Homo sapiens: one gene and its partners. The main gene of each other region encodes a partner of the protein of the gene in region 3 in a complex. Each region holds a gene or a part of one and is shown on either strand. Other genes may lie near its edges.

What was found.
Region 1: the proteins of PXN (region 3) and SORBS1 are in contact, whole or in part, in a crystal structure (PDB 2O9V), measured with the Homo sapiens proteins. Residues at the interface, in NP_001074324.1 of Homo sapiens: Val45, Pro46, Pro47, Pro48, Val49, Pro50, Pro51, Pro52, Pro53, Ser54; in NP_001030126.2 of Homo sapiens: Phe876, Phe878, Val900, Asp901, Asn903, Trp904, Ile917, Pro919, Thr921, Tyr922.
Region 2: the proteins of PXN (region 3) and PARVB are in contact, whole or in part, in a crystal structure (PDB 4EDN), measured with the Homo sapiens proteins. Residues at the interface, in NP_001074324.1 of Homo sapiens: Asp3, Leu4, Leu7, Leu8, Asp10, Leu11, Glu12, Ser13; in NP_037459.2 of Homo sapiens: Ala241, Phe242, Thr244, Leu245, Ala249, Lys252, Val255, Val256, Ser259, Leu260, Tyr354, Phe357, Thr358, Lys361.

What each region holds. Positions count from the first base shown.
Region 1 is NC_000010.11:95,556,750-95,566,719, reverse strand, and holds the start of SORBS1 (sorbin and SH3 domain-containing protein 1), read left to right. Parts: upstream 1-5,348; 5' UTR 5,349-5,400; intron 5,401-9,970. UniProt on the Homo sapiens protein: Plays a role in tyrosine phosphorylation of CBL by linking CBL to the insulin receptor. Required for insulin-stimulated glucose transport. Involved in formation of actin stress fibers and focal adhesions.
Region 2 is NC_000022.11:44,130,939-44,141,069, reverse strand, and holds part of PARVB (beta-parvin), read right to left. Parts: intron 9,584-10,131; coding exon 9,443-9,583; intron 8,177-9,442; coding exon 8,061-8,176; intron 4,611-8,060; coding exon 4,552-4,610; intron 947-4,551; coding exon 927-946; intron 1-926. UniProt on the Homo sapiens protein: Adapter protein that plays a role in integrin signaling via ILK and in activation of the GTPases CDC42 and RAC1 by guanine exchange factors, such as ARHGEF6. Is involved in the reorganization of the actin cytoskeleton and formation of lamellipodia.
Region 3 is NC_000012.12:120,212,558-120,222,688, reverse strand, and holds part of PXN (paxillin), read left to right. Parts: coding exon 1-140; exon of another isoform or gene 141-930; coding exon 931-1,066; exon of another isoform or gene 1,067-1,374; intron 1,375-1,763; exon of another isoform or gene 1,764-2,597; coding exon 2,598-3,482; intron 3,483-5,572; coding exon 5,573-5,848; intron 5,849-6,107; coding exon 6,108-6,416; coding exon of another isoform or gene 6,417-6,759; intron 6,760-7,027; coding exon 7,028-7,129; intron 7,130-7,271; coding exon of another isoform or gene 7,272-7,415; coding exon 7,416-7,586; intron 7,587-7,690; coding exon 7,691-7,864; intron 7,865-8,471; coding exon 8,472-8,553; intron 8,554-8,698; coding exon 8,699-8,847; intron 8,848-9,860; exon of another isoform or gene 9,861-10,054; coding exon of another isoform or gene 10,055-10,087; exon of another isoform or gene 10,088-10,108; coding exon 10,109-10,131. UniProt on the Homo sapiens protein: Cytoskeletal protein involved in actin-membrane attachment at sites of cell adhesion to the extracellular matrix (focal adhesion). Recruits other proteins such as TRIM15 to focal adhesion.

The DNA of each region.
Region 1 (9,970 bases), on a different chromosome or scaffold from region 3:
TGTTTTTATTTTTATTACCTTTTAGATACAGCATCTTGCTCTGTTATCCAGGCTGGAGTGCAGTGGTGCAATCATAGCTCACTATAACCTCAAACTCCTAGGATCAAGTGACCTCCCAACTCAGCCTCCCAAAGCACTGGGATTACAGGCGCGCACCAGTGTGCCAGCCAGAGCCAGTGTTTATAGATTGATAAACAGAGGCCCTGTGACCAGAGTCCTGGGGTTACTCATACTCATCCTATCCCTGCTTCCCAAGCACAGCAATCCCTCCTACTCCTCTGGGTTTCTACCTGGCCCCATAGACTTCTCTTGATCAACCTCCACCATTTCACCAAACTTCCCTAAAGCATTGTCCACCAGCATTGACCTCTAAGGAATGTGGAATTCTTGGCTCGGGCGTTCCATCATCTTCAAATCAGTTCCGTGCCCTGAGGCACGCGTTTGTAGATTTACTTTTTTCTCAGTAATTAATCAGTAAGAAACAAGACAATCAGTTATTAAGGAGTTTTGCTCTTTCCACTACTTGCTTCGCTTTCTGTAAGATGCTACAGAAGGCATTAGACAAAAATCATCAAGGGGTGTTTGGTGATACAGCAGCAAAACTCTTTGATTCATAACTCTCTTTCTCTCATTTGGTTTTCTTCTTTTCTCCTGGCATTCTCCAGCACGGCATCTCTGAAAATGACTATGGTCAATATTTCGGGTAACTGGGAAAACAACTTACCAAAACCAACGTGTTCTAAGAAGTTGTCTTTCTCAACACTGCCTCCTAGTAATGTTAAAATAATATTCACTTATTGATGCTTATGTGTGTCAGGCAGTGTGTAGGCACTATCCATGCACGATCTCATCTTCAGCTTGCAAGTAAACCTATGGAGGGTTGTGTTTTCTCCAGGTTACAGATGAGAGAAGTCTGCACACTAGGCACTGGAGCTAGGATTCTGCCAGGTGTCTCTGGAGCCCGCAGCCTTAACTGTTATGCTACTGCCAGCTCCAGGGCCTCTAGTTTATTTCCCTCTCTCCCAATCTGTGTGGCTCTGAAGATGAAGTAAAGGCTGACGACTCTGGGCTGTCCTCTGAAAAATCCTGCTCCCTCCTTTCCTAATTCCTCACACTTATGACCTGCTTGGGGATGCGTCCCACAGCATGTTTATGATCCTGGTTTGTGTGCATGACTCTCCGCCTGATATTTTAAATTCTCTCCAACAGCGGAAGGACTGCTGGGAATAATCTGATACACATGAAGAGAAAACGAGGAGTTACTAATAAGATTAAATTAAACTTAAGCACATTTTAAACAGCGTGTAAAACACAGGACTAAGCACTGTTTGAGATGAGCAGACACAAGGCACGACCTCATGGAATTTACAATCTGCTGGGGAGAGGAAATGAGGGATAAGACTACACACAAATATACAGGAGTTTATGCCAAATATGGCAAGTTCCATGAGAAAGGAAGAAATGAAGCACTGTAGGGCTGGAAGGCAGGAGTCCTCCCGTTTCCCTGTGGACCCAGGTTTAAGAGAAACGGTGGAGACTGAGACTGGAGAACAGGAAGTTTTACTGTTTTACTCAAGGGTCAGTCACTGATGCACTGACAAGGCCTCAAGGTTCACCCTCCCCAGGACAAGTTACATAATTTACAGGGCTCAGTTCAAAAATTAAAGGCAGGGCCCTTTGTTCAAAAATGAAGAATTTCAAGATGGTGACAGCAGAGCATGTAATCAAGTGTGGGGCCCTCCTCAGCACAGGTTGCATCCACACAGGGCTGGCCCTGCCCAAACGAACCTCCCTGGGCCTCTGATTCCCTAGGGCTCACCTTTGGGAAGTAGGGAGCAAGTATCTCTCTCACCACCTTGTAGCCAGCACCTAGCTCAGGGCCTGCTGCCCAGATGAATCTATGAATGACTGGAGATAGGATGAACTGACACGATTACACCTGATGATTTCTTGGGTTGCTTTCAGCGTTAAAACATTGAAGGACTGGCCAGGTGTGGTGGCTCACGCCTGTAATCCCAGCACTTGGGGAGGCTGAGGGGGGCAGATCGCTTGAGTCCAGGAGTTTGAGACCAGCCTGGCAAAATGGTGAAACTCTGTCTCTACCAAAAATACACAAAATTAGCTGGCCACAGTGGCCCATGTCTGTAGTCCCAGCTACTTGGGAGGGTGAGGCAGGAGGATCCCTTGAGCCCAGAAGATCAAGGCTGCAGTGAGCCGAGATTGCGCCATTGCATTCCAGCCTGGGTGACAGGAATGAGTGAAACCCTGTTTCAAAAACAGAAACAAAAACAAAAACCCAACCCATCGAAAGACCGTGACTTTCAACATTTCTTGGAGGAGACACCTGAGATGAGTCCTGAAGGACAGTAGGATTTTTCTTTTCTTTTCTTTTTTTGAGATGGAGTCTCGCTCTGTCGCCAGGCTGGAGTGCAGTGGTGTGGTCTTGGCTCACTGCAACCTCCACCTCCTGGGTTCAAGCGATTCTCCTGCCTCAGCCTCCCGAGTAGCTGAGATTACAGGTGCGTGCCACCACGCCTGGCTAATTTTTTGTATTTTTAGTAGAGATGGGGTTTCACCATGTTGGCCAGGCTGGTCTCGAACTCCTGACCTCGTGATCCGCCTGCCTCGGCCTCCCAAAGTGCTGGGATTACTGGCGTGAGCCACTGCGCCTGGCCACCAGTAGGATTTTTCTTTCTGTTTTTTCCACTTTCCTTCTTTCTTGACTTTCCACTATTTTACCATTTCTTTCATAAATCCTAATGGCAATGTTATGCCTTACAGTGAGACATGCAACAGTGACACAGACTGGAAACAGCAGAGAGGTTCAATATTTGAGGGATGACCTGAAGCCTTAGGCCTCCCTTAAGATTCCTTGAGATAGTGTAGATGAAATCTTCATTGATAGAGTCTGGTTTTTCATCTTAAAATTATTTTATTTTCACTGGACAAGTTGGTAGATGTTTATGAAGAAAAAAATCAGAAGACTATGGATGAGCAAAAATAATTACTTGCAATCCCATAAGAATAGTTCTAATGGGATTGCAGTATAAAACTAGTTTTCTACCTATTTTTCCATTCAATAATCTGAGCATCTTTTTTTTTTTTCTTTTTTTTGAGATGGAGTCTTATTCTGTTGCCCAGGCTGTAGTGCAGTGGCACGATCTTGGCTCACTGCAACCTCCGCCTCCCAGGCTCAGGCAATTCTCCTGCCTCAGCCTCCCACAGGTGCACGCCACCATGCCCAGCTAATTTTGGATTCTTTAGTAGAGATGGGGTTTCACCATGTTTCCCAGGCTGGTCTCAAACTCCTGAGCTCAGGTGATCCACCGCTGCCCACCTTGGCCTCCTAGAGTGCTGGGATTACAGGCGTGAGCCACCACTCCCAGCCTATTATGAGCATCTTTATGTGTCAATAAACCTCTTCATTTTTTGTAGCTATTAATATATGATATTCTGTCATATGGTTGTACTATTATTAACCAATGCACTCAAATTGGATATTTGGATTGTTTTGATTTTTTTTTTTTTTGGCTATTCTAAAATGGTGTTGCCCTGAATTTGCTGGGTAAGTAACTAGTCTCTCTACCCTTTGTTATACACCTCTGTGGATAACCTCAGGATAACGACACTATTCCCACCTGGGGTCGTGTGGTGGATGTGAGTTAACGCATGTAAAGCTCTTAGCACAAGTATAGTACGGTGCATAGCAGCCTAGACGTGCTCAATAAATACTAGCTGTTTTATTACTTTATAGCCCAGAGAGAGCTGTCTTACACAGATTGTGGAGTAAATAAATAGGAGAGCCGGGGAAGTGTTCTTTGAAAAGCTGCAGGATGAGGTGCAGATAGGGGAAGGCCGTGGGCTGGGGGCTCCCTAGGTTGAGTAGTTCCCCAGTGTTTTCTCATTTATAGAGTAAGCTTCCAGATGGCTAGGACTCTTCTTTTTTTTTTTAATACACAGCAGAGGACACCAGGTGGTCACCAAAGACTTGTCACCGTTCCCTGACATCTAAGAATCTTTGCTGATGAGTTTCCGATCAGTCTGTGCAGTTATCAAGGCCAGTCTTTACCCTGCCACCCACAGCCTGTTCACTGAGAATGTGCTCTGGCTGAAGATGCTTGCAAGGGCAGCTGACAAAAATCAGTTGTGCTCAGCCCAAAGGGCGAGTGTCTTATCTTCAGGGATGTGGGAAGCTGGGCATGGAGGGAGCAAGTTCCAGACCAGTACTTGCTGGCTCTGCGACCTTGGGCCAGCAGATTCCCCACTCTGATCCCTGTCTCTGTTTCCTTTTCTGTAACTCTGAGGGGGACTAGAGGAGGTCAGGAGAATGGCATAGCACAGTGGTTAGCTCTGAACCCCATCTAACACGGTGCCTTCCCCCCACTTGCAATGACCTTGTTGCATTGTATGCACTCTACTTTTCACATTGTAGAGGATCTTATTTATTTACTTGTCTCCACTAAAATGGAAGCTTCCTAAGGGAAAAGGCCTTGCCTGTCTTGTTCTCTGCAGTTAACACTGGGGTCCAGCACTGCCACAGAGCCTCTAAATATATGTGTGTTGCATGAGTGAAATCTCAGAGCCTGGGTTCAAATCCTGGTTGCACCACTTGCTGTGTGACCTCGGACAAGCCACTTAAACTACACCTCAGTTTTCCTGCATAAAAATAGTAATTATTTTCAGTTTTCTCACTAGAAAAATATGGATTAGTAATCGTTCCTCTCTTATCAGGCTAAGAGGATCAAATGAGGAAATATCCGGGAAGCATTAAGCACACTGGCTGGTACAGAGCACACGAATGACAACAGCAAACGTTTATGTAGCACGACGGCCAGGAACTGATCAAAATGCATCACCTATGTTAACTATGTTAATCTTCACTAGATTTTACGAAGTCGGACTATTATGCCATTTTACAGATGGGTAAACTGAGGCCCAGGAGTTAAATAACTTATCACTGTTATTTTACGTCTAAGGTTCCTTCCAAGCTCCCCGTGGGCGACCCTTCCGAAGGACCAGAAGGCGCGCCAGGCCAGCGTCCGGCCCGGCCAGGACGGAAAGGGTTACTAGGCCCGCGCGCCCGTTACCGGCGGAGGCCGGCGGGCTCACAATGCCAGGAGCCGGGCGCCGGACACTTCTTCGCCTCCCATCCGCGCACACGCCCCTTCCTGTCACGGCTGGGCCCGGCCCCGCCCCCGGCACCGCCCGCTGGCCGGGCGCTGCCAGAGTGGACGGTTCCAGAGGCATGCTAATGAGGGGGCGGGCACCGCAGCCCATTGGTTGTCCGCGGAGTGTCGGTGAAGTCAGCGCTGAGTCCCAGAAAAACAGAGCGGGGCCAGCTGCAGCGTGTAGTGCGAGTGGGGCGGACGCGCGCAGCCCGCCCGCCCGGCGACCAGCAAGGTAAGCCCGCGCTCGCCCGCCCGGCCGCGCTTGCCCGCTCGGCGGCGGCAGCGCCGGGGGTGTGCGCGGCTCGGCCCCCGCGGGCGGCGCCTTTGTTCCGCGCTCGGAGGAGGCGCATTTAAAGGGCCAGCTGTTGGAGGGACTTGGGGGACCCCCTCCCCCAGAGCATCCCCCCATGGGCACAGGGAAAGCGGTGGTCCCTCGCGGCCGAACCGTCCATCCTGCCTGCTCGGCGAATCCCCAGTCTTTCAAGGAAAGTTCCCCAGGGTGCGGAGGATCTGGGGGCTTCCAGGGTTGGGGGTTTTTAAATTTCCTTTTTTGGTGGGTGTGGGGTAGTACGATCATGGCCTCTGCTAGGAGAGAATGTCCGCCCGTCTCAGGGTGGCTGCAATTTGGGTGGGTGGAGGAGACATCAAAGCCCGAATGGGTTTGTGCTGTAAAGTGAAACTACCGAGGAGGGGCACCTCTGCAGCAGCCAGAGGAAGGCGGAGGGAGCGAGCGGCGGGATGGAGGCATCTCAGGTGTGTTCATTCATCAGCATCCCCTGGAGAGGGCGGCGGGAGGGGCGCAAGGACGACGCGGTTGGCCGGACCCGCCTGAATGAACGGGGACTAGTATGCGCCGGGGACACGGCGCCTGCCCGTGCCGCCCGTGCCCCTTCTTCTCCCCGAGTGGCTGACAGCATCTTGCTAGGCAGCTCATCACCGACATGGACAGCAAGCAACTCCTTTCTCCGAATTCCCCGGGCATCCCCTGCTACCACCTCGCTGCTTTCCGATGTGGCTTCCTTGATACGTGGTAGCGCCATTCAAGATAGAGGGGAAAGAGGCTTGAAGTCATTATGTTTCCTTCATGGGGGAATGTGCTGTCGAATTCTGCATCCCCATGCATCCGCTGTCGTAAGATGGCTTTGAAATTCACCAGTGCATGCTTTCTCCAGGCAGACAAGAATTTATTACGCTATTACATTGCTACGTAAAAGCAGAAGGGATCCCACTGAGCATGGCTCGTTTTGTTCAGTCCTCGGTTTTTCCCAGCATGTTCTGGGCGAGCCTTTGGATTTTTGTTTTAAACACTGAGCGTTGGGATGCCCCTGTTGTCACAGGGCCGACCTGCTGAAATTGCTGGAATTGGTTTCATCGTCAATAGGAGGGAGGTTCATCTAGAGACATCATGGAACCTATCTGGCGTGTCAGGCCTCTGACTCCATCTCTCCCCTCAACACCCCCCCCCCCGCCCAGCCCCCCGCGCCCTTTTTTCCTCTTAAGTGGAGGCGGGGGATGGATTGGCTGTCTTCACTCTCCTTGTGTTTTGAGCTCCTCTGCTTAGATTCAATTCTGTGGTTTTGGTTGGAAAGGTATCTTGGTGGTGATCGAAGAGAGGAGGGTTGGATTAAAAGTGGGGTGGACACAGAGGGGTCAGCAGCATCAATGACAGAAGACAGATGATGGACATATCTACAGCCTTCAGACACCGATGAGGCAGATGGCTGTCTACAGAGTGAGGGGCGTGTGTTTGGGCTGTGAGGGGGAGGGGTGGAGGAGGAGGATGCCTCCAGCAGTTTTCTGCCCCGCCCTCTGGATGCTGCCTTAAATAGCCCCTTGCCAACCAAGCTCTGATGTCTCTTTCTTGGCCTGAGGGGAAAGAAGGGAAGGGTTGGTCTGTTGGCACCTTTGCCCAAGGCACTGTTGGAGCAGATGGTTAGGAAAGGGTTAGTTCTCCAGGGGTTGCAGAGAGCACATTTCTCAGCTGGAGGGCCCTGAGACCACTCCTTTGGCGACTTCCCTGCAGGGAATTAGCAACTGAAATGAACTGCTGTCTACCCTGTGGGGTAAAGAGTTGGGAGGGTATTGTCATCTTGTGGACGATACCCGCCTTGTTGGCCTTTTCCTTCTCCTACCTGCTTTCATTTGTTGTAGTTGGAGAGTTTCTGTATACTTTTCGGAAGAGATTGGGCATATTGGGGAGTGGGTAGGAGTTATGGGAAAGGATGAGCAAATTCTTCCTGGCAGAACAAAGCACTGTTCAGCTGTTCCTCTCTTTCCCCTTCTCTAAAATAAGAGTTCAATACAGATAGCAGAGTCTAGGGTTTTCTTTGTAAACAATGAAAGGGCAGGGCCAGGAAAGAAAGTTTTTATTGTGCAGCATTGATAATGATCAGGTCATCCTAACTTATCTCCAGACCCTTCCCTGGATGTGGAGATAGATTTGCTGTAGAGGGCACTCTATGGTAATTTAGGATTTGACCTGTCTCTAGGAGAAAGGCATGGATGGTCTCAAAAAGCTTTGGTGGAGAAGCTCTGGACCAGAGGCAGGACAGCTAGCTTTGGTCCTGGCCACCAATCTTTGGGCTTTGGGCTAGTGGCTTCTGCTCTCTGGGCCTGTGTCCTTGCTGGTGAAGTGGAGGATGATAGGGCAGAAGGTCTTCCAGGGTTCCTGACAACTCCACTGTTCTTAGAGTCACAGTTTGTGATGGCATTTTCAGGTTCTTTCCTGTTTGCTAAATTGATAATAAATTCAAAGTATTGCACAATGGCATAGAAGAAGCATTCTAGGATGCAGGCTTCTGTTGGATTCACATCTACCTTTTCCTTGATTAGTGTGATTTGTGAGGTTTTACTGTAAGTATGTAAACAATTCAGAGCTAGAACGGTCCAGAGTGAGAGGCACAGACCCCAGAGTGAGTGGTTGTGGGAGATGAGGGTGGGATGATAGATTGCTGAGGAAAGGGAGTTTCTGTAATTTGTTCTCTTTCCCTGTGGATGTTTAACTTGCTGGTTTATTCATGGTTACACAGGTGAACGTTTACCTATCTAGAAGATGAGAGTTATAAAAGACCTCTGTGATTGCCATGTTCCTCCCCCTTCCCCGCCAAACTGAGGAATTTGAGGGGTTGGGAGGTTTGGCCATTTTTCCAAGGTTGCACAGCTAGCAAGATGTGGAGCTGGGGTGGGAACTCGGGGGGATAGATTGTAGATCTTGTTTCCAGATGTATCTGGGTTTTTTTGTTTTTTGGTGGTGGTGGTTGTTTTGAGACAGGGTCTCACCTGTCACCCAGGCTGGAGTGCAGTGGCACAATCATGGCTCACTGCAGCCTCGACCTCCTGGGCCCAGGCAGTCCTCCTACCTCAGCCTCCCGAGTAGCTGGGACCACAGGCACGCACTACCACACCCAGCTAATTTTTGTACTTTTTGTAGAGACAGAGTTTTGCGGTGTTGCCCAGGCTGGTCTCAAACTCCTGGACTCAAGCGATCCGCCTGCATTGGCCTTCCAGCATGCTGGGGTTATAGGCTTGAGCCACGGTGCCCGGCCTATATGTATCTGTTAAGCCCCCTCTTCCTCTGAGAGAAATGATTCTAAGATGGAATAGCGAAACATGAGGAGGAAATAGGAGCACAAGAAGAGAGAGATTGGAGAAACAGACGAGAAAGTAGGAGGCTGGGGACAGATTATGTGGGGAAGGGAAAAACACAGAAACCAAGCTTGGAGGAGAAAAGGATGGAGCTTGAAAGGGGGAGGCTCTATTGTCTCTGAAACAGCTGAGCTCTTCTGCAGCCCTTGGGGTGAAGTGAGGGGAGGTTTGGTAGCCTAGGATGGGGGGTGGGGGGGTGGACTGAGAGTTCAACCTCAGCCTGAGACTGTCTTGGAATCTCCTTGGGATTGCTCCTGTTGACCCTCAGATTGCAAAGTGTCATGGAGGCTGCTTAGTTTCAGGACCAACTGAGGCCTTTAGATCCACGGGAGCATGCAGAATGTGGACATGTGGGAAGTCAGGTGTGCGGGTGGTGATGCTGGCTGATGCTGAGGTGGGACTCAGTTCTGCTGAAGTCCCGGTTTTTTTGTAAATGCAAAACTCAGAACACTTTTCCATGGATTTCGTTTCAGTGCAAGCAGCATTTTCTCCTTGGATTTTCATCGGTGCTTTGAATGTTTTATGAGATAGTGTTTCGAATACTCCCTTTTCAGAGGAGATACTTGGAGATGAATGATTTACTGAATTGTAGCTCATTTGGGGGAGCTTCTGGCTTGTGACCTAAGCTAAGCCTCAGAATGTTTCAATGAGCAATTAAAGAGCTGTGAACAGTGGTTGACCAGAGCACTAACCATTCAAAGGCAAGGATAAAAGGTGATAATAGTTCAAGGTCTGGAGCTACAGCCAACAGCTGGCCATGAACAATGTAACTGACTTTGGCTAACTCTTCAAGCCCTAGAAAGTGTCTCTGTGGGTCCTTTGGTGGCTCCCCCTTTTTGTGTGCGGTTAGGCATGTGGACCCGTCCCTGAATCTTGCTGTCTCCCATTCTTCTTTTGCTACATCTCCCTCCACTATCCATTTCTTTTTCTTACCTCTTTCTCCTTGCCCTCCTCCCTCATTCTTTCTTTATTATCAACAATATATCTTTGTAGTTTCTTTTAATCTATTGCCATTAAAATTTCATGTTCTCTGTTCTTCATTTCAAATCAGTCGAGGGCCAGGCAAGGTAGCTCATGCCTGTTATCCGAGCACTTTGGGAGGCTGAAGCAGGTGGATCACCTGACGTCAGGAGTTCAAGACCAGCCTGGTCAACATG
Region 2 (10,131 bases), on a different chromosome or scaffold from region 3:
GGCAGGTGGGAGACTTCTATCTGGTTTCCATTTTTCCTTTTAAGAGCTGTTCTCCCCTCCCTGCTCACTGGAGAACAGGGTATCTGGGGGTCAAGAGGTTTCTCTTTTGAAATGCTTCCCAAAGCACTGAGGCTGGCCAGGCCGAGGGCCGGGGTATCCTGGTACTGAGGGTTGAAACGTTACCATCCCTCACCGAGATGAAGATGAGGTCTCAGGCTTTCATGAGGGAAGAGAGAGTGATTACCTCTCTCTCTTTGGGAAGAGCCACTGAAAACCAACACTAATAAAACCAGCCCACATAGAGGGCTGTCCCCCGGCCAAGCAGGGCACTCACCTGTGATCTCACCCAATACTCACAGCAGCCCCTGCCTGGGGAGAGCCTTTTACACTCCCATTTCACGGATGAGGAGCAGAGAGAGGAAGGGGCAGGCCACAAGCCACCAGCCAGGAATGAGCCCTGGCTGCCTGACTCTAAGGAAGTCTGCTAAACCAGTGGTTTCCAGGAGGAAATAATACACATGGAAGGACATCCACAGAGCTGAGCCACTCTCTTCCAGCCAGCTAACGACGCTCCATGTGCTGGCTGCCTCTCCTCCCTCCCTTTTACCCTCAACCACTCTTGCTCCAGCCCCTGACAGTTCCAGCCAGTGTTACATCCCAGGCCCCTCCTGCTCCCCTAGCTGGTCACCCAGCCTTCCACCCCACTCCTCCTAGCACAACCCAGCCACTCTCAGCTCTGAGAAACAAGCCCATTATACAGAAAGGTGGGGGTGGGCTGTGCACTTTCTCTAGGATTCCAGAACTATGGGGGCAGTGAGACCCATCTAGTTTCCCACTCCCTCCAGATAACCATGTACACTCTCTGGGAGCTTCCTGGGGGAGCCCTAACATGCCTCCATCTCCCCACTTTCCCTGGGGTTACTTACCGAACCGGCCCATCATCATCCTGCAAACAAGAACACAGAGAGAGCCATGAGATGGGTCACTCAGAACACAGTTTCACAAGCAGCACAATGGAGGATGAGGGACAGAGCCAGCCAGAAAGCTGGGCCCTCGCTGCCCAGGTAAAGGCCTACTGATAAGAACGCAAGTCACATGGTGCTGTGTTCCAGCCTGCTCTAATTATAAACGAGAGGTGCTTGTGTGAATTATTAATGTTTGCACAAGGTCAGCAGCAAATCACCATCTCTATTTGCACATTAACCACCCTGGTAATGTTGTTTGGAGGGGAGGTACTTAAATCAGAAGAGTGGTTAATATGAAGATTTCAGCAGACAACAGGTCTTCCAGCAGCCGTGGAACGCTCAAAACACAGGCTGGGCCGGGCACAGGGGCTCATGCCTGTAATCCCAGCACTTTGAGGGGCAGAATCGGGTCAATCACTTGAGGTCAGGAGTTCGAGACCAGCCTGGCCAAAATGGCGAAACCCCATCTCTGCTAAAAATGCAAAAATTAGCCGGGCATGGTGGCAGGCACCTGTAATCCCAGCTACTTGGGAGGCTGAGTCAGGAGAATCACTTGAACCCAGGAGGTGGAGGTTGCAGTGAGCAGAGATTGCACCATTGCACTCCAGCCTGGGCAACAAGAGTGAAACTCTGTCTCAAAAAACAAACAAACAAACAAACAAAACAATAAAAAAATGCAAGGCTGGAGACGAGCCTGGCCAAAGTGGCAAAACCTCCTCTAAGAAAAATACAAAATTAGCTGGGTGTCATGGCGTGCGCTCTAGTCCCAGCTACTCAGGTGCTGAGGTGGGAGGATCGCTAGAGCCTGGGAGGTCAAGACTGCACTGAGCTGGGATCGCACCACTGTACTCCAGCCTGGGCAACAGAGCAAGACCCTGTCTCAAATAAATAAATAAACAAACAAACACACACACAAGGTTGCAGGTTACTCATGTTTCCAGGAGTAAACACAATGTACTTGCAGGACTTGTGGAACTAAAGGATCCTGGAGAACCACGAGGCCAGGCCCTGATCTCAGGCAGGCGGCAGCGGAAGCAATGGGGGAGACGGGAGTGGTGAGCAGCTTCTCCTCAAAGATTCCCAGTGAGTGAGTGCACAGATCCTTTCCATGCACTGCCTTCCTGAGAGGCAAGGAAGTCTTTACTTTGTCCCCAAATCCCTCTAGGCTCAAGTCCTTTGGCTCCATCTTATTTAACAAGCACTTACTTGAGTACCTACTATGTGCAGGCTGTGCAGATACAGAAATTAACATCCCCTGGAGATAAACACTATGTGGCCCTGCCCTCAGGATGCCTGGGAGTGACAGACCTCATAAGCCAATATTTCAATGTTGGCCACATGTGTCCAGAGGCTAAGGGAACTAACAGGAAGCCAAGCACTCCTGCTTGGCAGACAGGAGGGCTTCCTGGAAGGGGTGACCTCATAGCCACCTCTTGAAAGAGAAAGGGGAACACTGAGACTGGATAGGAGGTGGCAATGCTGCCTTAGGAAACTGAATGTGGATCTTTGGGCCGCTGGTTTTCAGCAGACATCCAATGATTCAAATGTTCCGTCAGAGCCTCCGCAGCCACGGGGAGGGGAAGGAACAGGAGACAAGGATGGGATGACCAGCCCTGAGGAGAACCTACCTGGGGCATCATCCTGGAGAGGTGACCCAGCCTCTCCTTTACCCTGACCCTGGCTGGCAGAGGGACACTGACTCAGGCTAGAAAATCCCAACTCCCTTCCTCACTGCTCAGGGCCATCTGATATCTGATTGAGGTGGCTTTCACTGAAATCTCCCCTTCCCTGACTTTGGGGTGCTCCCCTCCTCCTGGAAATTCCCTTAGGGCCCCGAGGCACTTCCCACAAGCCCCTGTGTTAGACTGTACATGTCTGTGGATGCATCCTTTCTCATCAGCAGGATGGGTCGCCCTGGAGGAAAAGAACTGCACTCAGCCCACCTCTCAGTGTCTCTGTTGATCCAGCAAGGAGGCTGGCATGCAGCAGGTCCTTGGGGCCACTTACTGCTGATGAATAGCTGAGACAATTCTCCCACCCACTTGCTCATTCTCTGTCTCTGGACCATTCTAGTTTTATGGCAGGGGGCCCAGCTCCTCCTTGCTGTCCTCATATGGGACCCCCTCACCTAGAGGGGAACTCCTATCACAGCATGCCCACCACCCAACAATGTGCACAGGCCATTCCTGCACAAGGAGGCAGAGTCTGTTTCCTGCACCTTGATCCAGGATGACCTGTGACTCACTTTGACTCACAGAATTGAGGACATAGGTATGGATGTCCAAGACAAGGCCTCAAGGGGACTGCAGCTGCATTCTCACTCTCTCAGGACCCTGAGAGCACCCTGGGAAGATGCCCAGCACTGTGAGGAGGAAAGAGACCCAGGGGAGGCCAACACCAACCACCAGAGGTAGGGGGAGCCCATCTCAGCCTCCCCAGCCTCCATCCAGCCTTCAGATGTCTGCATCATATGAGCAACCCCAGGCGAGACTGGCTGAACAACCGCCCAGCTGAGCCCAGCCTAAATTGCTGACCCACAGAATTGTGAGCAGCAAATGAAACAGATGTTGTTTTAAGCCACTTGACTTTGGGGGTGATTTGTTACACAACAATAAACAACTAAGACACCAGCCCAATCCCAGTTCCCCACGAGCAGCCCTTCTCCTACTGCTGAATAGGCAGAGCTGCTGCCAAAGGCCCACTGTGCTGGGCAAAGAACCACATTCTCATCCTCCCCTTTTCCAGCTCTCCCTGTTCCCTTCGTGGGCCTGGGGCAGACTGGGAGGCCTCTTCATGGGCCTCTGCACATGCATCAGCCTGCACTCCACTGTCCCATCATCTTCCCTGAGAGCTTGCAAGCCACGAGTGGTTTCCTGTGTCAGCTCCAATTTTTGAAATACCATCCATGAATTCACAACACAGTAATTAATCACTCTGTGAACTTAGCTGATGGATTAGCTGAGACAATCAATTTTTAAATGTTCTGTTTCATCTGAAACAGGTTTAGTCAAGAGGCACAAATGCAGTGAATTCTAAAGATTCTTAGCAGGTTATCACAAGGAGTCCTTAAAACCACATACCACAGATACTGTTTGATTTGCTATTTTCAATAGATTTGAAGCCTTTTAGACTTCTGAACACCTGCCCTCTGGCTTTCTCTAGGAGATAACAGATGGCTTAGTAGTGTCTGTCAAAGGAAAGTTCTGGTTTAAAGATGTAGCTCCCACCTCTGATGGGGCTAATGTAGATGGATAAATGAACTGAGACAATGGTTCTCTCTAACCATCCTGAACTCTCTCTGCCTGCCCCACTTTGCAATGTTCTTACAGCTCACCTTTTAAGATAGGAATGAAAAAATTCAAAGTCTGTGGAAGGTAACTCAGTTCTAATGTTAAAAACTCTGAAGAAAGTGTGCAGAGGGAGGAGAGCTGGGGTGGGAACCAGCATGAGAATCACATGCTACAGAGAAGGGGTGTGGAGCGGGAGCAGCCCCATGGGCGCTGGTGTCCCTGGCTGAAGTGGCAGCCTGGGGTCCCACTCACTCGGGGCAGCAGGGCCTGGAAGGGCAAGACAGGGGTCCACTTACTCTGTAGTTGTGGTCAGCTCCTCCGAGATGTGGCTGGAATGCAGCAGGCCTTCCCGTTTCTGAAAACCCCAAAATAAACATACAAAATCAGGCAGTGGAGAGTTGAGGAAAGATGCACTGACAGGGCAGACGAAGCTGCGGGGCCGGAGATCATCTTAGAAAAGAGCAACAGGAGAAGGAGGGGTGGTGTTGAACACGCATGCCAGGCCTGGGTGAGTACACAGCAGGGGACCCTGGGCAGGGTGCCTTTCAGCGACCACAACCTGTCCCTATCCTCCTCCCCACCCTCTGGTCTCCACGTGGCCTTGAGAGTTGGCATTTGTGTGGGTCTCAGGAGAAACACCCCAGGTCAGGATTCCCCAAAGGGATCCTCTATGCTTTGCAGCCAGGAGAGGTGAGGCATGCAATTGGAAGGAACATAAATAACAGGGAACATCCCCTGCAATCATGTGTGTGCACGGGACTGAAGAGGGTCCCCCAAAGTTCATATCTACCACAAACTTCAGAACATGATCTCATTTGGAAATAAGGGTCTTTGCAGATACTAGCTCAGATGAGGTCATCATGGATTATGGTGAGCCCCTCCTTAATCCAATATGGCTCACCTCCTTATTAGAAGAGGAAACAGACACAGAAACAGACAGAGGGAGGAGGCCATGTGATGACAGAGGCAGAGACTGGAGAGATGTGGCCACAAGCCAAGAACACCAAGGACTGACAGCCACCACCAGAAGCTGGAGGAGGCAGGAAGACCCCTCCCCTAGAGGAGGAGACATGAGGGAGGACATCCTACCCTGACAACATCTTGATTTCAGACTTCTGGCCTCCATAATTGCGAGAGAATAAATGTCTGCTGTTTTAAGCCACCTGGTTTGTGGTACTTTGTTATGGCTGCCCTAGGAAACTGACACAGTATATGTCACACTTCTCCCAGAGCGTGGCAGGTATAGAAAAGCAATGATGGCCGGGCACAGTGGCTCACAGCTGTAATCCCAGCACTTTGGGAGGCCAAGGCAGGCAGATCATGAGATCAAGAGATTGAGACCATTCTGGCCAACATGGTGAAACCCGGTCTCTGCTAAAAATACAAAAATTAGCTGGGCGTGGTGGCATGTGCCTGTAATCTCAGCTACTTGGGAGGCTGAGGCAGGAGAATCAGTTGAACCCAGGAGGCAGAGGTTGCAGTGAGCTGAGATTGTGCCACTGCACTCCAGCCTGGGTGACACAGTGAGACTCCATCTCAAAAAAAAAAAAGTAATGATGGTAGTGAGGGGGGCATGGCAGTGGTGATGGTAGGGGTGGCAGCCCGCCTGTCACAGGAGCTCCAGATGGAGCCTGGGTGGCTAATCCAACCACCACTGAACCCCTCAAGGGACTGGGAACTCATTTCCCGCTGGGCCAGCCCACAGTGGACACCACCAAGATCTGGGCTTCCATCCCTTTCCTGAGTTTGACCTCCATGGAATACTCAGGGTTGGTGCTTGTTATTGAACAACAGTGTGGGTGACATTTATCCTGATTCTCAGGAGTGCCTGCCAAGGAAGGTCCAGACATTGTGTTCACCTAGTCAAGGATCAAACATGCCTGAGGCACCCACCAGGTGCTGGGCCCAGGTCTAGGATTGTAGACATGAAGCTGGATGTTTTACAGGTTTGTAGTAAAATCTTGGTTTTATGGGGAAAAGCATTGCAGCTCAGCAAAAGCAAGTGATCAGCCCAAAGCCACGTGGCCAGGCAGTAAATAAGGCCCTTTCCTTCCTTCCTTCCACCCTGGAAATGCCACATCCCTTACACCAACCATTCCATCTGGGGTTAGATAAGGGGTCCCCTGAGCAAGCTCAGAGGCCAGGGGGCTGCAGAGAAGACAGAAGGCGGCTCTAAGGTCTGGGGAGTAACTGCGCCCGGTTCACAGGACCCCCTGCTCCCGTTTCATTCTGCTTTGGTCGTGGCCAAACAACACTCCTCTAACCCGTTATGGCAGGAAGCACCAGCAAGTGCTTGCCTGGTTCAAACTTTCTGCAAACCGCAAAGATTATCTTGGACCCAAGTGCAAGCCTGAAAGGAAATACTCCAGTTTCTGAGCCTGCACAGGGCTCCTGGGGCCCCGAGCTGACGTAGGTAGGCTTGGGAACCACATCCCAATGTGTCCTAGGGAAGCCTTTTCAGGCCGGCTGCCTGTGAACCAGTGGCCAAGACACGGGGCCATAGGAATGGCCCCCCAGGTCCCGAGTCACCACCACCAGCCACAAACATCCTCCTTAGGAAGGAAACATGGACACATGGCAGGTGGCCCTTGCCGGATGCCAGAGAGGAGCATTCCCGTCCGGTCAAGACTGAGCTCCCAGGGTAACAGAGGGGCCAGAATGGGTTCGGAAAACACAGTGACAGCCAGGTCCTCCCCGACCACAGAGACCACGGGACTGAGAAGTTTAAAAACCAGAGGAAAGTGGAGCCGGATGTCTCGAGTAAAATAAACACAGAGGCATCCAAGGTTCCGAGCGTGACCTCAACTCTGGCCGCAGTGGTCACCCCCACAGACGCCAGGCATGTGTTCCTCCTTTAGTGGCTCGGCAGCCTATGCTGAGTGCTTAGAGAATAGTAGGCGCTCATTGCACATTTACTGAGGGAAACTGCACACACGAACCCTAGGCAGCGACTGTCCACTTAAATGTAAGGGAAATAAGGCCAGGCATGGCAGCTCCCACCTATAATCACAGCATTTTGGGAGGCTGAGATGGGAGGATCGCTTGAGCCCAGGACTTCGAGACCAGCTTGGGCAACATAGCGAGACCTTGTCTCTACAAAAATTTGAAATTAGCCAGGCACGGTGGCATGTGCCTGTAGTCCTAGCTACCTGGGAGGCTGAGGCGGGAGGACCGCTTGAGCCCAAGAGGTTGAGGCTGCAGTGAGCCATGACTGCACCATGGTACTCCAGCCTGGGCAACAGAGTGAAACCCTTTCACAAAACATAAAATAAAATAAAAAATAAATGTAAGGGAAATAGCAAGAGAAAGGTAACTCTACTTCACCCTCTGTTAGAAGGACCTGGGTTCTGGTTCCATTTCTCCAAGTGAATCAAGAGAAATGAACCCAAAAAAAGAGATGATGGGGCATGATGAATAATCCCCAACGAATGCAAAGCGGCTTTAATTTGGGTGTCTGTTTCATCCCGCGGGGCCAACCTCCTCCAATGAGTAATAAGCACATTCAAGGGGATTGAATTCCAACCAGTTGGCTTTGGAGAGAAATGAATGTTCTTTTCAAAAATGTGGAAAATTAAACCTCAACACCCTCATGCCTCTGCTTCTGCCTCTCATCAAATCAATGCCATTGTTCCCGTTCCAATCATTTATCTCGGAGCCAGGGTGAGACACACATTTTGTCAAAAGGGAAAAATAGAAGGTAGCCTCCTGGGGGGAAAAAAGGAGGGGGAGGGCAGGAAAACTGCAGGAGGAAGATGTTGCCTCTCTGGCGGAGTTACAGGCAGGCCGACCACTCGGTTATACTCACCCGCACGACCACCACCTGCACCGTTACATGCTCAGGAAGGCGGATGGGGGCCCTGAAGTGCATGGCCAGAGAGACCAGCAGGTGGAGGATGGCCACCAGGTTCTTCCCGTGAATTGCTGCAGGAGGAAGGAGGAAGGGAGACGCTTTAGATCAGGTTACACAGGAACCTGAGCCCACGTGCAGAAGGCAACAGAGACACAGCATCTAAATGAGACCCCAGCGAGACAAGGATGGAGCGAAGTGTGGACAAATCAAGAGAGCTGATGAGCAACCTGGTGAATTTACTTCTAGCTTCACTGTCTCCTTTCCTGTTGGCCTAAGGTGACTTGTGCAACCACTTTTAGAAGCACAATGTTTTTAAAAGCAATAAATTGGGCAGTGATGAGGGAAAGGAACAGGATAGTAAAATTAGCACAGAAGGGAAAAGAGCATGGAAAGCAGGTCACGGCCACTTACCCATCACAAGGATGTGCGTTATTATCTCTGGCACTAAAAAAGGGCTCCCTCTCCGCAATGAACCATCCCAACAAGGGTAGGCTGCCAAGAGCAGAGGCCACTCTGGGGACATTAGACATTAGCCCCTGCCTTGCCTGAGTCTGTCCTCTCTCTTCCTCAGCATGCGGACTCAGGTTTGGTCAACATCACCACTTCTCCTGCAGGGTTTTACAGTTTACAAGGCACCCGATTCCCCACCCACGGACCCAGCCACCCACGAGACAGCCTGGGTCTGCCCAAGGTCTCGATACCAAGAAACCGGGTGCAAGGCCAGGCTCCAGGGTCTCCTGCCTACCACTGAGAGCCCAGCTCACCAAAGCACGGAGACCTCTGGCCCAGCACAGAGAGCCCTGAAGCCACACCCTCATGGCCCTGCTTCCAGGGGAGGGAGGTGGGGAAGGAGTGGGCAGGACCGAGGAGAACTTTCCAGCTTCTCCTGGTTTAGTCTTTCACCTGCCGGGTTCATGTCTTGGCTGAAAATACCGTGATGTCACATCTCATAATGCCAGGGTCATAGACAAACAGCCCACTAGGTGTTGCTGCCACCAGTATTTGGGGTTGAGTCCCAACAAGAACCCCCCAAGGCTGCTTCTCTCTCTCAAAGTCCCTCTGATCCACCCATCCATAAACATTGCCTCTCTCCTCTGCAGCATGGGGAGGATGGAGAATTGTGGCCTGACCAGGTCCCTTTTCTAGGATCTCCCTAACCCTTCTCCTGTTCTTCTCCCCTGCAATGTTCTACCTCTTACAGAGCAGGGAGATGAACCCAATTTTAAGATGCAAGGCCAGATGGGATGATGATGAATGTGGATGACAAATGTGGATGACGAATGTCGAGAGGACGGGCTCCCTCCAGACAGTCCCTCCCCCTGTGGCGTGGAACTCACAGTCCACGCTCCACCGGAGCGCCCAGCCTCGGGGCCGCAGCAGGTCATGTACTGCTTCCAGCACCGTCTGCAGCTTCTGTTTCTGCCCTATTTCGGACTGTGTCACCTCAGCCACATTCAGCTTGCACCCTGCCAGTTTTTCTGCAATGAGAAGCACAAGAGAAGAGGGTCAGAAAAAGCTGGAAGGGCCAGGCGCAGTGGCTCATGCCTGTAATCCCAGCAGTTTGAGAGGCCGAGGTGGGTGAATCACTTCAGGCCAGGAGTTCGAGACCAGCCTGGCAAATATGGTGAAATCCCGTCTCTACTAAAAATATAAAAATTAGCCAGGCGTGGTGGCGCACACATGTAATCCCAGCTACTCGGGAGGCTGAGGCAGGAGAAGTGCTTGAACCCGGGAGGTGGAGGTTGCAGTAAGCCAAGATCATGCCATTGCACCCAAGCCTGGGCAACCTGAGTGAGACCCTGCCTCAGAAAGAGAGAGAGAGAGAGAGAGAAAGAAAGAAAAAGGAAGGAAGGAAGGAAGGAGAGAGAGAGAGAAGAAAGAAAAAAAGAGAGAGAGAGAGGGAGGGAGGGAGGGAGGGAGGGAGGGAGGAAGGGGAGAGAGATATACTGGAGGAACTCAAAACCACCAAGACCCCAGCCTCAAGGAGGTCCCCGAAGCGGGGCAGGTTACCATGTGGCCATGGGGG
Region 3 (10,131 bases):
ACTAACAGCCCCTTGGGAGGCAAAGCTGGGCCCCTGACGAAAGAGAAGCCTAAGCGGAATGGGGGCCGGGGCCTGGAGGACGTGCGGCCCAGTGTGGAGAGTCTCTTGGATGAACTGGAGAGCTCCGTGCCCAGCCCCGTGTGAGTACCCACTGGGCCCTCCCCAGGTGGGGAAGGGCTGGCCCAGCCTGCCCCGGGTCCAGTGTCTGTCCCCTTAGCCCTGGTATCACCCACTCCCTCCCGTGTCTGCCATTTGCCAGGCACTGGGGGGATAGTGGTGAGTCACATGGACACCATCCCTGCCTTCAGCCAGTCACTGCCAGTCAGAAAGGACAGACGTTGTGCAGGCTGAGGGCGCCTGGAGCTTAGCAGCTCTTAGCACAGGCTTTGGGGCCACACAGTGGGGTTCACATCTTGGCTCTGACAGTTACTGTCAGCTCTCAAGCCTTAGTTTTCCCATCTGTAAAATGGGACAAGAACTTATGGGATCACTGGGATAAGACCACCTACCTCAGTAAGGGTGAGAACCAGTAATCCATGTAAAGCGCTTGGAATGGTTTCTGGTGTGTAGTGCGTGGCACACATGGTGAGTGCCCAACACGCGAGCTCTTACCAGTGCCGTCGTGTTACTGCAGTAGCCTCACCTCCATGTCCAGTGTTGTGGAGGAAACACAGGGCGCTTGGGCTTGTTTCGCAGGCCAGCTTTCACTTGGGCTGGGGGCTAGAGGAGTCTTCCTGGCACTTCCTGGTGCCATTGAACTGCCCTTTCTTCTGACCCAGTGATGGGTCCCCAGGAGAGACAGGGAGCTGGTGGACCTCCCTGGGGTTGGGGATGGTGAGACCCCAGTGTCCGAGGTGAGAGGTCGATCTGATCCCCGGGAAGTGTGGGGCTGACTGTGGGCTCCCCACTGATGCTGTGCCCACCCTGCAGCCCTGCCATCACTGTGAACCAGGGCGAGATGAGCAGCCCGCAGCGCGTCACCTCCACCCAACAGCAGACACGCATCTCGGCCTCCTCTGCCACCAGGGAGCTGGACGAGCTGATGGCTTCGCTGTCGGATTTCAAGGTGCCCTGTGAACCCTCCATCTTCCCTGCCCTGCCGCCCCTCCCTCATCCTTCTCCTCCCTTACCTCAGTGTGGGTAGCTGGATCTTGGCATCTCAGTGTTTGGGTGCCTTGCCCCTGAGCCAGGGACACTGTCATGCCCTGGCCTTGCTGTGATGCCAGGAGATGGGGAGGGAGGGCCGGGTCAGCCTGCCTGAGGATTGCAGTAGCCAGTGAAGGCAGACAAGCTGGAGAAGTGCTCAGCTGGGACATTCCTTCCTCCCTGGGTGCTCCCAGCCTCTCAGGTCGAGGGGATCAGGAGGCTGGGACGCTGGGACAAAGAACCTTGTGTTGATGGCTGCTCTGGGTGGGGGAGGGCATTCTCTGCTGGGCCATGTGGGACTTGGGAGCCTGTGCCTGGGAGGTCATTTGCCCTGGAGCCCCATCTCCCACGCTAGCTGTCCTCAACACATCCTCTTTCTTTCTGCCTCTGATCCTGAATCCACAAGCCTCCCTTGCTACTCTTCTCCCATCCTTCCCTCTCGCCCTCCAGGGCCTCTGAGTTCCCACGAGCGTGTCTGTGGGAAACCATGGGGCCAGGCTTGCACGAGGTACCTGCCCTTCCCCTCCCCTGCTGGGCCTCCCCAGTCCTGCCAGGCCTGAGATGTTTAATTTAGAGGATTCAGTGTTTCCTTGGGGATTGATATTGACAGAACTCACCAGCAGCTGCTGACTTCATACTTCCACGTGGGTCAGCTGGAGACCTTTGGGGCATGACCTAGGGAATATGAGAGGGGAGTGAACGGTCCCTGCACCCTTGGCCCTGATGGTGTCTCCTAGCCTCCCTTCAGCTGAGGTTTCATGGTGGGAGACAGGAGTGTGGCTGGGGTGGAGGGTTGAGCCTGGCCCTGTGACCCTTGCGTGCTATAGTTCCAGCTCCAGGCCAGTGGTTCTGAGCAGCCATGGTCAGAAGCAAGTAAGTTGGATTCAGGGCCTGGCCTGAGGGAGCTGTGCCCCGGTGCTTTTAAGGCTGCCGTTTTCTCAGACAGCCTGTGTCCTGATGCCAGGAGAAGCAGCAGTGGTTTTAGTCAGATCCCTGGAGCAAGGATGTGGAAGACGTAGAGGACTTGGGGTGTAGGAAAGCTGGGATTGTCCGGAGGGACATGGCCGAGTTGGGCCAGTGTCCGAGGCGGGTTCAGCAGCCCCTGGGGCTGGCTCTCCCTCCATTTGTGCCTGGGGCTGTCTTCCGTAGCCACCTGGCTCCCCATTTGTCCACCTTACCGTGGTCTTTTCTTTCTCATACCCTCCCTGGGTGGCTCCACAGGCACGGCTTGGTGGCTGCTTTCTCTTGCTTGGGTTTGGTGAGGGCTAAGCACGCAAAGCCCAGGGAAGCTTTTTTGGGGTCTGGGTCTCCTTCAAGGGTCAGTCCTGTGCGTCAGCTTTGCAGCCACCTTGGTCAGCCCTAAGGCCGAGCCCACCGCCTGCAAGGTGCAGCCGTCCTCACTCCCCTCATCTCTCTCTCTCCTCTCCCCTCTGCATTTCTCTCTTCTCCAGACCAGCTCCTCCACTGTGGCTCTGAGTGCCCCGGGGCTGTCCAGCTCTGCTCCGTCCTCATACTGCTCCCTTCCTCCTTCTCCTCCTCCCATGCCATCTGTATTTCTGCCACCCACCACTATACCCTCCCCTCGAGGCCAGGGCCACACTCCGGAGTTCCCTTGTACTGAGCAGAGTGGACGAGGCCTTCTACCTCCTGTAGCCCCCAGCTGGCTTGATTTGGCTGGTCTTGGGGTGATGCCTGACACCTTCAACTCAAGGTCTCCCTCTGTGGAGGGTTCTCTGTGGGCAGTGGGCACAGAGAGTCAGGGTCGAGATTGGAGGCACCTGCCGACCATCACAAGTGAGCTCTCTGGGGCTCCCCGCTGCCACACTGTACCCTGTGCTGGGAGCACAGCTCTCCAAGAGCCTGGGGAGCCCCAGGGGCCACCAGCCAGCCCTTCGTGCCCAGAGGAGGCCTTGGCTGCCACATGGGAGCAGCCATGGGCTTCGGAGGTATTCGGGCCTGAGAGAATGCCCCCCTCTGGAGCTGCTCGAAGCTTCCAAGAAGTAACAGAGCCAGCTGTAGTGGCAGTGGACCGGCAGGCCATCTTCCCAGATACCTGGACTCTCACGGAGGAACATGGCCTACAGCAGGAGAGGCCAAGGCCAGAGCCAGGGAGGCTGGGAAGCAGCTCCCCTGCCTCAGTTACCACGGAGCAGCTAGGTGCAAAGATGACCGAGAGGGGAAGTGTGGCCAGGCCAACCCAGGGACCTGAAACCCCAAGGAGCCCAGAGGGCACCACGGAAGCTGCCACCCAGGACGGGAAGGAACAGCCAGAGCTTCCATGTGCCATGGCCATGGGCACACCCAGCACCACGGAGAGGATTTCCACCTCTGGCCAGGCAGGCACCAGCTCGCATGGCTGCTGGGCATGGCCATTGGCGGGTCTGAGTGTGGGCCGCTCCTCGCTAACTGCATGCAGCCTCCCACTCTGCGCATGTCTGCTTGGGCAGAAAATGCTGAGACACTGTGGCCGGACCTGACAGTCAGCACTTGGCAGTGGGCTCTGTGGACCCAGCATTTCTCATAGCGTCAACCCACCTCTTGCCTTGTTGAGGCTTTTTCCTTTCAGATGAGCTGTCCTTGACATTCTGATGTGGTGAAATGGTTAGCAGCATGGACTTTGGAACCAGATAGACCTAGATACAAACCACATGTCTAACACTTGCTACCTCTGTGACCTTGGGCAACCCCCTCCCTCAGCCTCAGTTTTCTCATCTGTAAAGTGGGGAGAATTTCCATCAAGATTGTCCGGAGACCTAAATGAGATAATTCCTGGAAAGTGTTTAGAACACAGCATGTGGTCCCTCAATAGGCCGTGGCTGACAGTACTTTTATTACTTGCTTTTTGCTTAAATTAAAACTTTATGCCGGGCCAGGTGTGGTGGCTCACGCCTGTAATCCCAGCACTTTGGGAGGCCGAGGCGGGCGGATCACCTGAGGTTGGGAGTTCGAGGCCAGCCTGACCAACATGGAGAAACCCCATCTCTACTAAAGATACAAAAAGATTAGCTGGGCATGGTGGCGCATGCCTGTAATCCCAGCTACTCAGGAGGCTGAGGCAGGAGAATCACTTGAACCCAGGACGCAGAGGTTGCGGTGAGCCAAGATCATACCATTGCACTCCAGCCTGGGCAACAAGAGTGAAACTTGGTCTCAAAAAACAAAAACAAAACAACAACAACAACAAAAAACTTTATGCCTCACCCTGGCACAGTAGCTTATACCTGTAATCCTAGCACTTTGGGAGGCTGAGGCAAGAGGATCGCTTGAGCCCAGGAGTTTGAGACCAGCCTAGGCAACACAGTGAAACCCTGTCTCTACAAAAAATTAAAGATTAGCTGGGCGTGGTTGCACATGCCTATAGTCCCAGCTGCTGGGGAGGCTAAAGCAGGAGGATGGCTTTAGCCCAGGAGTTTGAGGCTGCAGTGAGTTGTGATCGCACCACTGCATTCAGCCTGAGCAACAGATCAAGACACTGTCTCAAAAAAAAAAAAAAAAAAAAATCCCCCAAGCTTTATGCCTCTTTGGAAAACAAAACGAAACAACCAAAAACCCCCAAAACACTACCAACAAGTATAATAGCATAATATAATATTAGCATAATAATATAAATAAGAAAAAAAAAACTAGTTAAAAAAGTTCCTGGCTAGCTGAGCACGGTGGCTCACACCTGTATTCCCAGCACTTTGGGAGGCCGAGGCAGGCAGATCACGAGGTCAGGAGTTTGAGACCAGCCGAACCAACATGATGAAACCCCATCTCTACTAAAAAAAAAAACAAAAAACAACAACAACAAAAATTAGCCAGGCGTGGTGGTGCATGCCTTTAATCCCAGCTACTCAGGAGGCTGAGGCAGGAGAATCTCTTGAACCCAGGAGGCGGAGGTTGCAGTGAGACCAGATCGCGCCACTGCATTCCAGCCTGGGCGACAGAGCGAGACTCTGTCCCCCCCCAAAAAAAAGTTCCTGGAAGGAAACACTTTTTCTATTATAAATTAAAAAAAAGAAAAAAGAAAAAGCCGTATGCCTTGTCAAGGGCATGCACTTACATCCTCTGGAATAATTCTTGTGCAAACCCTGTGCGGTAAGCCAAGAAAATCTTGTGGTTCCATTTTAAGGAAGGGGAAGCTGAGGCCCATGGCAATTAAGTGTCTTGCCCAAGGTCAGTGGCCAACTTAGAGGTGAATGCTGGGTCAGAGGTCTCGCTCGCAGCCTGTGCTTCTGGAGCCAGTCCGATCTGCCCCCTCCCCTTGCCTCTACCCACCTCCACCGGTCCAATCTGCCCCCTCCCCGTGCCTCCACCCACCTCCGCTTGGTTCTTTGGTGGTTTTCTTTTGTGCTCCCTCTCCTGAGGCATCTGAGTGTGGCCTGAGCAGCGTTGTGCAAGCTGGGAGTGGGACGGTGACAGCCTCCCCTCCCCCTCCCCCTAGATCCGATCTGTGATCAGGAGGAGCTGGGAGTCTGGCCACGCACACCCCATGTCCCGGGAGCCCTCCCCTCGCCGCCGGCTGGACCCTGCCACCTTGAGCAGGACCCCATCCCAGGAACAGCTCATCGCGGAGCTGCAGGGGCGGCTGGGCATCCAGCCTGAGGCAGAGGAGCCGGCGGAGGCGGCGGGGCCCTCTGCCCAGGACTGGCTGACCGAGGGCGTCATCATCACTGTGCAGCCACGTGGGAAGCGGGCCGGGGGGCAGCTCGTAGAGAAGGTGGCGAGGAGATGCCCATGGCTGGGGCTGGGCCAGAGCCAAGCACCTGGGGTCCGGGTTCTTCCCTGGCCCCAGTGCTGGCCGGAGGGGAGATCTGGGGAGAGGGTGGGGGTTTCTTGCCTCCTGTGACTTTGGAAGACTGGCCCCACTCTTGGTGCAGAGTGGGAAGGCCCAGGGGGAGCCTGGGGAGGTCCCGCCACCCCTGTGGGCTGAGCTGGCGATTTCTTCCTCATCGCTCTCCCTCCTTTCTTCTCCCCAGGTTGTCTTCCCTCCTGGCTCTCCCATTCCCCTGAGAAGAACCATCTCTGTCCTGGCTTCTCCTTCTGTCCCTTTGCTCCAGCATCGCACAGACGCCGCGGCCAGCAGCTCTTCTCCCCTGCCCAGCCTGCTCGCCTCCTCCCCCCTGGGGCCCTCAGCTTATACCTGTGGTTCTTCTGGGGTCCAGAGTGCAGGGGAAGAGCCCCATGATGAGGGGGTGCAGGGCCCTGCCCTTCCCATTCCTGCACCCCACACCATGAGGTCCGTGGGCTGCCAGACTGATGAGGACCCGCTCTTCCCCCCGATGCAGGCAGGCCTTAAAGGAGCCCCTCCCTTTCTGTCCCCTGTCCTAATGCCTGAGCCATCCCCCACTCTGCACACACACACGTGCACACACACATACACAGATACCCTCCATCCCTCCATCTACAAGCCCCAGCACAGTAACCACAGTCCTGCCGTAAACCTTGACCCCGGTCTTCCCCCACTCAGAAGGTCCGCTGCCCTCTTGCTTTTCTGTGGGTCCACCCATGTCTGCTCCTTCCTCGACTGGTCCTCAGTACTGCCCCGGGCTCCCATCGAGGAAAGAAGCCACTCCAGAAGGGAGACCAGAAACCTGTCTCCTCCCTTCCAGCCCCCAGGCCCAGCGCCCGGTGAGGCCTCATCACTGAGCCCGGCCACCTCCCCTTGCCATTTCCTCTGCCTTTGGTCGACTCCCCTCCCTGTCCTTCTTCCTTTCTCCCTAGGCCTCTCTCTCAGGGCTCTTTTTCTCCAGATTTTTTCCCCCAATTTTGGTCCTGCCGGTGGGGGAGAAACCCTCAGATCTCATCCTAGATTCCCTTTTAGTCCAGTGACAAGGTCTTGTATTCTTTCTTAATTTTTAAAAAAGATTTCTTACCCTCATCTCTTCCCCTATCTAAGATCCAGGGCCTGGAGCAAAGAGCGGATGGGGAGCGGTGCTGGGCGGCCGGCTGGCCTCGGGACGGCGGGCGGAGCAGCCCCGGAGGGCAGGACGAGGGAGGGGTCAGTGCCAAGGCTGGGCTGGGTGTCCTGCGTGTCGTGCTCTCCCTGGGCTTGGCCATGCCTGCTGGGTGCCCTCAGCCTTTCCGACCCTGGTGGGCCCCTCCGACCACCAGGAGTCCTGCTGACGTCACTCCCACTTTAGGGCTCCTGGCCCCTGGAGGAGGTTGTACTTCTTGTCTCCATCAGCTCATCTGTCCAGGAGGGAGAAAAGTACCCCCATCCCTGTGCTGCCAGACACCGTACCCCGAGCCTCAGGAGTCCTGACCAGCCCCCTCCGTGTCCACAGTTCATGGCCCAGGGGAAGACAGGGAGCAGCTCACCCCCTGGGGGGCCCCCGAAGCCCGGGAGCCAGCTGGACAGCATGCTGGGGAGCCTGCAGTCTGACCTGAACAAGCTGGGGGTCGCCACAGTCGCCAAAGGAGTCTGCGGGGCCTGCAAGAAGCCCATCGCCGGGCAGGTGATGAGGGGGAGTGGGCAGGGGTGTGGCCAGTGGACTCCTGCAGGGGTGGGGGTGCTCCGGGGCTGGCCTTGGCCCTGGACCGCATTCCATCTCCTCCTCAGGTTGTGACCGCCATGGGGAAGACGTGGCACCCCGAGCACTTCGTCTGCACCCACTGCCAGGAGGAGATCGGATCCCGGAACTTCTTCGAGCGGGATGGACAGCCCTACTGTGAAAAGGACTACCACAACCTCTTCTCCCCGCGCTGCTACTACTGCAACGGCCCCATCCTGGATGTGAGTTCCTCATCCGGCACCGCGCCCGCTTCCGCTCATTCCAGCTTCACCGCAGCCCTCTGAGGATGCAGGGGGTGCCGTGGGAGGCTCAGAGAGGTCACATGCCCGAGGCTCACAGGGCTAGGGAACAGTGGGGCCGGATTCACAGCCACACCTGAACCACAGCCTGTCCCGATGTGCATCGGGCAGCCCCACCTCCCTTCACCTCCCATCTCGATTCCTTTCTGTGGAGACTCCCAGGACTCAGGAGCCCTGAGGAGATAAATGGAGTTGGATGCCAGCGGCCTCACTCTCCCTCTCTGTGAACTTAGGAAATGCCTGGCCTCTCTGAGCCTATGTTTCTTCACTTATAAAATGGGAGTCATAGAACTTGTGCCCTCTACTTGGGGTGAGGAGTAGAGGAGAGGGTATGTGTCTGGCTTGTCCCATCCTGAGTAACTCTGAATTCTTAGAGGCATTCACAGCACAATTAGGAGAGACCCCCATCTTGGGAGTGTTTTGCTCTGTCTATGGCTATGAGCTGCGGGTGGAAGGACGGCCTTGCTGGGCGTCTCAGTTGTGAGATCTGCCCAGAGCTCAGCCTTGATCCCACATTTTGCTTTCACAGAAAGTGGTGACAGCCCTTGACCGGACGTGGCACCCTGAACACTTCTTCTGTGCACAGTGTGGAGCCTTCTTTGGTCCCGAAGGTACGGGCTGGACCGGCGGACTGACCCACCGCCTCTTAGGAGGGCCGGGGAGGTGGGGGTGGGAGACGCTGCTGAGGTTGGAGTCAGAGTGGCTCCACTTCTGGAAGCCGGAATGAACTGTGCCTCCAAAACCCCCGCTCCCCAGGGTTCCACGAGAAGGACGGCAAGGCCTACTGTCGCAAGGACTACTTCGACATGTTCGCACCCAAGTGTGGCGGCTGCGCCCGGGCCATCCTGGAGAACTATATCTCAGCCCTCAACACGCTGTGGCATCCTGAGTGCTTTGTGTGCCGGGTAAGGAGCCCCTGACCACATCTGGAGGGGCGAGGAGCAGGCAGTGGGGAGAGAGGGGTCTTCCTCATTGTGCTGTCTGGATCCAACTCAGAGGCCTCATTTGGGGTTATTAATTGGGGGAGCAGGCAGGGGATCTCCTTCCTCCAGTCCAGTAGGTCCTGGGCCAGGGTTTGTACTGAGGCTGGGACAAACCAGGAGCAAGGTAGACATGTCCCCCAGTCCAGCCCTGTGCAGCGGCCCTGGGCCATTCCTATTTGGGAGGAGAGTGTGTGAGAACTAAATGAGATAATGCAAGTATTTAGCAGACTCAACAGAAATGGGCAGTGGTTTCCAAAACCACTGCATTCTGGGGGCCCCACAGGGGTTATTAATGATTCAACAAGGGCTCTCTGACCAAATGAGTTTGGGAAACACTGTTCCCTGCAGGACTTCTCAGAGCCTTTTCTTTTCTTTTCTTTTTTTGAGACGGAGTCTCACTCTGTTGCCCAGACTGGTGTGCAGTGGCACGATCTTGGCTGACTGCAACCTCTGCCTGCTGAGTTCCAGTGATTCTCCCGCCTCAGCCTCCCAAGTAGCTGAGATTACAGGCACACGCCCCCATGCCTGGCTAATTTTTTGTATTTTCAGTAGAGACGGGGTTTCACCATGTTGGCCAAGCTGGTCTTGAACTCCTGACCTCAGGTGATCCGCCTCCCTTGGCCTCCCAAAGTGCTGGGATTACAAGTGTGAGCCACCTCACCCGGCCCCTCTCAGAGCCTTTTCTACCTATATGTGATGTGAATCTCCAATGAGAATCTAGGAGGCAGAGTTTGACTACAGACCAGTGTCACACCTGTGTTTCTGGGAACACTGTTACAGCCACCTGGCTAAGTGCTCAGGAGTCAGACCTGTGTATGAATCCAGGCTGTGACCTCAGTAGCTGCATGACCCTGGGCAAGTTACTTCACCTGTGTGCTTCAGTTGCCTCCCCTGTTGGGAGAACTAAATAATCCCAGCCCTGTGGGAGGCCGAGGTGGGAGGATTGCAGGAGGCCACATTTGACCAGCATGGGCAATATAGTGAGACCCCCATCTCTACAAAAAAAATTTATTTAATAAAATAAAAATGAAAAATGAGCGTTTAGGACAACACGGCACATGGGAAACGCCTAGCAAGTAGGAGTCACTCCGAGCGTGCCGACTATGCCCACCTCGGCCCCATCACACAGGGTGCAGCTCTAGCCCGAGGGGCAGCTCCCTGAGCCCCTCTCTCCGCCTGGCAGGAATGCTTCACGCCATTCGTGAA